Homo sapiens: one gene and its partner. The protein of the gene in region 2 purifies or fractionates together with the protein of the main gene of each other region. This does not show direct contact. Each region holds a gene or a part of one and is shown on either strand. Other genes may lie near its edges.

Region 1 (3,657 bases), on a different chromosome or scaffold from region 2:
GTTGGTCGGGGGGTGCCTGTATTGAAAAATCTTGACCACAATAGTTAAACTTTACTGAGTCATCACAAGTTTATAGTATATTGAAAATTCTTGCAGGTTTTAATGCTGACACTGCAGAACGATCCTCCTTCTTTGGAAACTGGTGTTCAAGATAAAGAAATGCTGAAAAAATATGGAAAATCATTTAGAAAAATGATTTCATTGTGCCTTCAAAAAGATCCAGAAAAAAGGTAAAATATGAGAAAAAGTCTACTTTTCTCTCTAATAAAACATTGTGAGAAGTCTAAGAATCACATACTCATATGTACAGGAAATTATTTTCAAAAGAACTAAATATAAACTTTAAAAAAGTATACAGAGACCATTATACTGGATTGGAAATGAATTGATTTCTGCCTTCTTTGTAGTATACAGTGTACCCTAAATAGTTCAGCTTTTTCCTTGTTAATTTCTTACAAAGTTGTACATTGTGAATTCTGTATTAATAAATGCCAAGTTAGTGGAGAGATTTGTTTTTAATTTGCATTTAAAATTTATAAATGAATGTCTTAATGCCATTTACAGTATTAATAAAGGAAAGACACATAGAAAATTTATATTTAGTGTAATAATCATACTTATTTCCATGTTAGAAAGATATTTTAGTAAGTGGACCAAAAATTCAAATAGCTTCCTTATCAATGTTAGACAGATTGAATGACAAGTGAGCAAATAAATAAGAACATCCGATATGTGTAACTTCATGAATTAAGCAGAATCGTAGAATGTTGGGGATCATTGAGTACAACCTTTTATTTTTGAGGTCACTTGATACTTAGTCATAGGAGTAGGACTTGAATCTCAAAGTCCTGATTCCTAACTTAGGGCTCTGTTCCTTCTGAATCTTATCTGTCTGTTTCACATATATATTCCACTCAGCTTCTTAGCACTGAGTTCTTTAATTTTTGTTTCTCTAAAGATCATTAAAAGGGAAAGACTTTGATGTTCTTGATCACATCTCTAGTGTATGTAATAGGGTTTCAGAATTTATTGTTGGAAATATTGGAAAGGGTAAGAAAAACAGGTAGCAAAATTTATACCTGTGTTTTTATAATTTTTTTTTTTCTGTTTCTGAGTAAACAGTTAAAAAAGACAGGAAACACTTTTCTTTTATCAAATTAGTTGGTTAAAGGAACAAAATTATCCTGTTACAAATACCTAGAAATGCCAGATAAAATCTATCCAACTTAAAGATTCTCAGATGCCAGAAATAATGAGGAAGCCCTAAGTTAAAGAAGAAATATTGTGAACTAATCCCATGGCTGTTTTCAGTGGGTCACTATTCATTCTGGTAACCTACTGATTTGGATTTATAACTCCCATGTGAAAACTGGAAGTGAGATCTTGGGTCCACCCAGTGGGGAGTTTGAACTGAGATTCTTCTTAAAGCTAAGAACTTCAGATGTCAGTATCCTTAGTAAAAGGATAGACAAGAATAAAAATTGTCATCACCAAGAGACAACAAAAACCTCTCCTGAATAATCAAGCCCTTCAACCTGGACATTCCACAGGTTTAGAGTCTATACTCCCTATGTTATCCAGGAACCCACAGGATTAGAAAGTTAAAAAAGCTTTACCAAATCAGTTTTTATTTTTGACGGAAGTAGTCACAGAGCTGCACTGGAAGAACACTTTCAAACTCTAGCTCCCATTGGATTCCTGAACATAATGCCCCACTGTAATAAGGTCACAATCCAAAATTAAGAAACACACAGTGAAACAATGCATTATGAACTAGTTAGCAGACACAAGCAGAAGGATTAGTGCTCCAGAAGATTTAGGTAATGCAGTGAAAATCTGAAAAGATACAAAATTAAGTATATTGAAAATAATTAAAATTAGAAGAAATCAGACCCACAAGAGAAGACTGTGACTATGACAGAAGAACCAAATAGCAATGCCAGAAATGAAAAATACAGTGATTAATGTTTAAAACTTTCCATGAGTGTGAGCTGGACTTGTTGACTCACTTCTGATGAGTAGAGTATGAAAAAGGAAAAATAGCAACTTTACAATGCACCTCCTCTACCCAATGACCAAGGTTAACATCACTATTAATAATACATTGATAAGACTGATATGTGCCTCTTGATATGGTGCAATGAGAAGGGCATATATATAACCTGTGAGGTATTCTTCCTCCAAATCCGTAACTTCGGTCTATAATGAGAAAACATCAGACAAACCCAAATCGAGGAATATGCAGCAAGATACCTGACCAGCACTCTTCAAAACTGTCAAGGAAGAGAGACTAAGAAACTGTCACAGATTGGAGGAAATTAAGAAGACGTGAAGACGGAAAGCAAGAGTATCCTATACTAGATCCTGGGACAGAAAAAGGACATTAGTGGAAAAACTGGAGAAATGGAATGAAGTCTGTAGTTTAGTTAATAGTATTGTACCAGTGTTGATATTTTAGTTGATTTCTTTATTATTATACTGTGGTTATGTAAAAGGTTCACAATAGCAGAAGGTGGTGAATGGCATGTAGGAACTCTGTACTAGCTTTGCAGCTCTTCTGTAAGTCTAAAATTATTATAAAACTTTAAGAAAACTGGAAGCTATAGAAAATCTATTCCAGTTTGTAAACCAAAATTAAACTTTGTTTAGAACATTGCTAAGTTAAAATAACACGCACAATGGACTGGTTAAACAGAACAACCAATAAAACAAAAAAGAGATTATTTACTCATCAAGTACCAGGCACTGTGGTAAACACTTAACATATATTGTTTAATTCTCACAGTAATCCTTTGAGGATAGCACTGTTATTTTCTTTATTTTACAAATGAAGAAACTGAATCACAGAGAGGTTAAGTAACCTTCTCCAAAGTCACACAGCTAATAAATGGTGGAATCAGAATTCTGACCCATGCAATTGGACTAGAGTTAACCTGTTTTAATCAGACTACACTATACTGAGGAAATTGCTCAGAATGTGGCACAGAAAGATCAAAGAGGGAATATGAAAGAAATATTAACATTTGGAGGGTAGACTGAGAAGGTTCAGTATGTTTGTGTGTATGCACATCCACACACACACACACACACACACACACACACACACACACACAAATGTACGTATACATATACATGAACTTACCAGGAAAGACTAGAGAGAGTATAGGAGAAGCGATATTCAAAGAAATAATGGCTGAGAATTTTCGAGAGTTGATGAAAGACCTATATTCTCAGAGTAAAGAACCATCCCCCCAGAATTCCAAGCAGTGTCCCCCTTCTTCCACTTGTACAAGTTGCTGTGAAACTACTGGACACGAAGCAAAGACAAACTCCTACAGGCAACCTCGGGGAACAGATTACCTACTGAGGATTAGCAGGTAGACTTGACAGCTACTTCCCCAATAACACAACAGTTGAGGCCAGCGTTTAGTGAAATGCTCAGAGAAAATGCAGTCATGTGTCACTTAAAATGATGAGGATACATTCTGTAATATGTGTATTAGGCAGTTTTGTCATTGTTTGAACATCGTGGAGTGTACTTACACAAACTTTGATGGTACAGCCTACTGCATGCCTAGGCTATTTAGTGTAGCCTGTTGCTCTGACTACTGTCAGATACACAGTATATTGTTGGCCAAAGCATTAAGAGGCTCATGA
Region 2 (3,657 bases):
AGAAGGTCCTTCTTAAATACTTGTAACATTAAAGTGTTAAGCAACTTCTTTCTTTTAATCAGGGAGAAAATGCACAAACGTTACATATTTATATATGAGATAAATTTTGTTGTAGACTTCTAGACAACAAAATGCAGGATGCCATTGTCATCCATCCAATTCTTTCCATCTATACTGTCACGATTCTAGTTCTTGTTTCAGTATTTCTCTCCTGCTCTCTAAGTACTCTTGTTTTGTCTTTGACCTGTAACATGTATATTGTACAGAGTACATAATATGCATAATCTTCAACCTAATTAATATGTATATTGTACACATTATGGGTCAAAGGTAAGACATGGGTACTCAGAAGCATTGAAACCCAGTTTTATTTTTCAGAAAGCAGAGTTTTGACCATATGATTCCTCTACCCAAAATAGTTAAACGACTTCTCTGCTACCTGCCATAGAAAATCTAATTGTTATAATGTAGCAGTCAAGGCCCTTGACAGTCTGTCCTCTCATTCCCTTTCTATTCTTCTGTTTCCCCCAGTGTTTCAGTACACTTTTCCCTATGCTCTAAACATGCATGTGACTTCAGGCTTTTACTCCTTTGCCTCCTCTCATCTCTCTCCTGTAAATAGCTCTTCACTTGCCTCTCCTTTTATCTCTTTAAATACTGCATTCTTTAAAACCCAGCTCAGTTCTTCATAGTGCCTTTCCTATTTTCCCCCCACTTACCCCCCCATCTAGTTGTTATGTTTCCTTCTGGAATCACAATATACTTTTATACCTACCACTCATCACATTATGGCTGGTATTATATTTATTGTCTTATTTAAGTTTTGTGGGCCCTGTTTAGCATGTTTTATAGTAGCCACTTAATTGATAGATCCTGGAATTCAACTGTTTATTCATTTCAAATAGTGAATTATGCAAGAAATACTAATAATAAATTTAATAGTCAAACCTATAGCAGATCTGTTTTCTCATATCTCAATTTAAAAACATTTTTATTACAAATAAAATTGCATTTTGTTAATTGCTTTTTGTATATATGTGCACTTCACCTGTTCTGTTGTTGCCACCAATGTTTCATTGCCAGCTAAGCCTTCAGAAAGGTATTTACTGGAAAATCAGGCTTGTTGATGATCCTTTTCTACATCCTGTCCCAGTTCCTTCTTTCCCCAAAATGCTATGAACTTAATCTGCCATCAACTATATCTTCAGTATGGCCCACAGGTCATATTTGGGCCCTGAGATAAGTGTTCTTGGATGGAAGAATAATCCAAAAATAATTAAATATTTGTCTACTAGTTTTTACTGAAATTTATGTACTTATCAATATAGTTTGACTAAAATTAACTTAAGAAACATTAGCTTCCATTTAAATTTTATTATTAATGTCTTTGTCCATTACTCAGTGCTAAGGAGAGATTCAGAGAAAGTAAAATACTCAGTGATTACTCAGAAAGTAAAGTACTCAGTGAATTTAAGTCTACTTTGTGAATGAATGGTGTGAATTAATTCAAATGGATATTGTTTAGCATATGATAGACTGACTTTTTCTATAAATCATGCTTTTTAGATATATGGATTCAGCCCAATATAGAATGAAAATACTTGTATCTTAATTCTATTTATTTTTGTTGTAGGATGGCTACTTTGCTTAGCAAGTTCCGGATAGACTTTTCTGATATCATGGTTCTAGGAGATATCAATACCAAACCAAAGAAAGAAAAGTAAGTTACTCTACAAATTTCTGATCCCTTTATAGATGGCCTACTCAGACACAGATTCAACTTAATTAAAACCCAGAGATTTTTTTCCTGTTGTTAGTTACATGTGAAGTCAATATTTTAAAAAATCTAGCATTGATAGTTGGCATGCATATATCAGATATTAAAGAAAGTCTAAAGAGTTTTCAATATTCAGAGAGGATTTAAATTACAGCTTTACATGTGATTTCTGAAAGGTGGTTCATTTCCATTGCCCCTGCCTACAGTCGTTATAACCACTCAGTCCCTGCTCTACATACCTATTACTTTCCACTGTTTTGTTTTATTGCTAAAATAGGAAAATCTAAACATTTGCCTGCAATAGTTGCATTCAGAATTCTTCTAGCAAAGACTTTGGAATATTCCACCTGAAAATGGTATATACAGGTTGTTATAATGATATTTGTATTTATTTTACCTGATATAATTTTAATTCTTAGATTAATGTTGAATCAATATGAAGCTGATATAAAGAATTCCTTTTAGATAGAAAATAGTAAGGTACAATTTGTAAGGTTGTAATCAGGGTGAGATTGCTTTTATTGTAACACAGTGTATACTGGGTGTTTCATACTAGATTTGATACTGAAAAATATTTTTCATGTTCATAGAGGATTAGAATGCCATTCATGTTATTTTACTGTTAAATATCTTTGGATGTAGAAATTAATTTTGCATTTCCTTAAATTTTTAGTGTCTGCCCTTTTCCCCTTCAAAATGTTCTAGTACATTTTTTTACATCACTTTTATTCATTGATAACTGGGAAAGCCTTTGGGTGTTTTGAGCAGAGTAGTAACACAATTTGACTTATTGCTCAAAGGGATCATGTTAGCTACTATGGTAAAATTTATTTAGGCTGAGAGAAAATGGCCATAAGGGGAGGCGGGGTAGATAACAGTGAGATCAGCTTTAGCAGTTAAAAATGCAATTTATTACAGGTTGGAGATTCCTTATCCCAAATGCTTGGGATCAACCAAAAGTGTTTCAGATTTCAGATTTTTTTTTAAATTTTGGAATATTTTCATTATACCTGCTGGTTTAGCATTCCTAATCCAAAAATCAGAAATTTAAAATGTTCCACTGAGCATTTCCATTAGACATCGTATTGGTGCTTAGAAAGTTTTAGATTTTGAAGCATTTTGGATTTCAGATTAGGGATGCACAATCTGTATTGTCTATATGGGTTCTAATTTTCTCATCAGTTTGAGAGACTAGAAATTGCTGTTTTTGAAATAAATTGCCAAACTGATTATTATGGTTGGGGTATGGAGAGGAGCGTAATAAATGAGAGGCACTAACTTTGCAAGTTACAATTTAATATTTAAGATCTTCCTGTTATGTAACTTAAAATAAGATTAGTTGTCAGTATTCTTTCTGTTTTTTAAAGTATTATAGCTTTTGAGGAAATCATTGAGCCATACAGACTTCATGAAGATGATAAAGAGCAAGATATTGCAGATAAAATGAAAGAAGATGAACCATGGCGAATAACAGATAATGAGCTTGAACTTTATAAGACCAAGGTATTCTCTTCTGCTTCCTTTTCATTAATCTTTTATATAATAAAAGACATGAAAACCAAGAACTTTAATTTGATATAGGAGGGTCAGTTGTATAAATGAACTCTACTTTAAAATAGATTTATTTGAGGTTAGTGGAAAGCATTTTTAAAAAAAATAAAAATAGAGAACAGATATTTTTATTACACGAAAATTCATTTCAGTTTCTTTTTGTCTCCTTATAGTTTTATGAACCATGCTAAATTCTTATTTCCACATGGTCTAGGAATGACTGTCCTGTTTCATTTCAGACATACCGGCAGATCAGGTTAAATGAGTTATTAAAGGAACATTCAAGCACAGCTAATATTATTGTCATGTAAGTAATATCTTTATAAAGA

Evidence for each region.
Region 1: the proteins of SLC12A2 (region 2) and OXSR1 purify together in Homo sapiens (pull-down; one study listed by IntAct). This does not show direct contact.

What each region holds. Positions count from the first base shown.
Region 1 is NC_000003.12:38,224,475-38,228,131, forward strand, and holds part of OXSR1 (serine/threonine-protein kinase OSR1), read left to right. Parts: intron 1-96; coding exon 97-230; intron 231-3,657. UniProt on the Homo sapiens protein: Effector serine/threonine-protein kinase component of the WNK-SPAK/OSR1 kinase cascade, which is involved in various processes, such as ion transport, response to hypertonic stress and blood pressure.
Region 2 is NC_000005.10:128,181,222-128,184,878, forward strand, and holds part of SLC12A2 (solute carrier family 12 member 2), read left to right. Parts: intron 1-1,633; coding exon 1,634-1,720; intron 1,721-3,144; coding exon 3,145-3,280; intron 3,281-3,501; exon of another isoform or gene 3,502-3,567; coding exon 3,568-3,635; intron 3,636-3,657. UniProt on the Homo sapiens protein: Cation-chloride cotransporter which mediates the electroneutral transport of chloride, potassium and/or sodium ions across the membrane. Plays a vital role in the regulation of ionic balance and cell volume.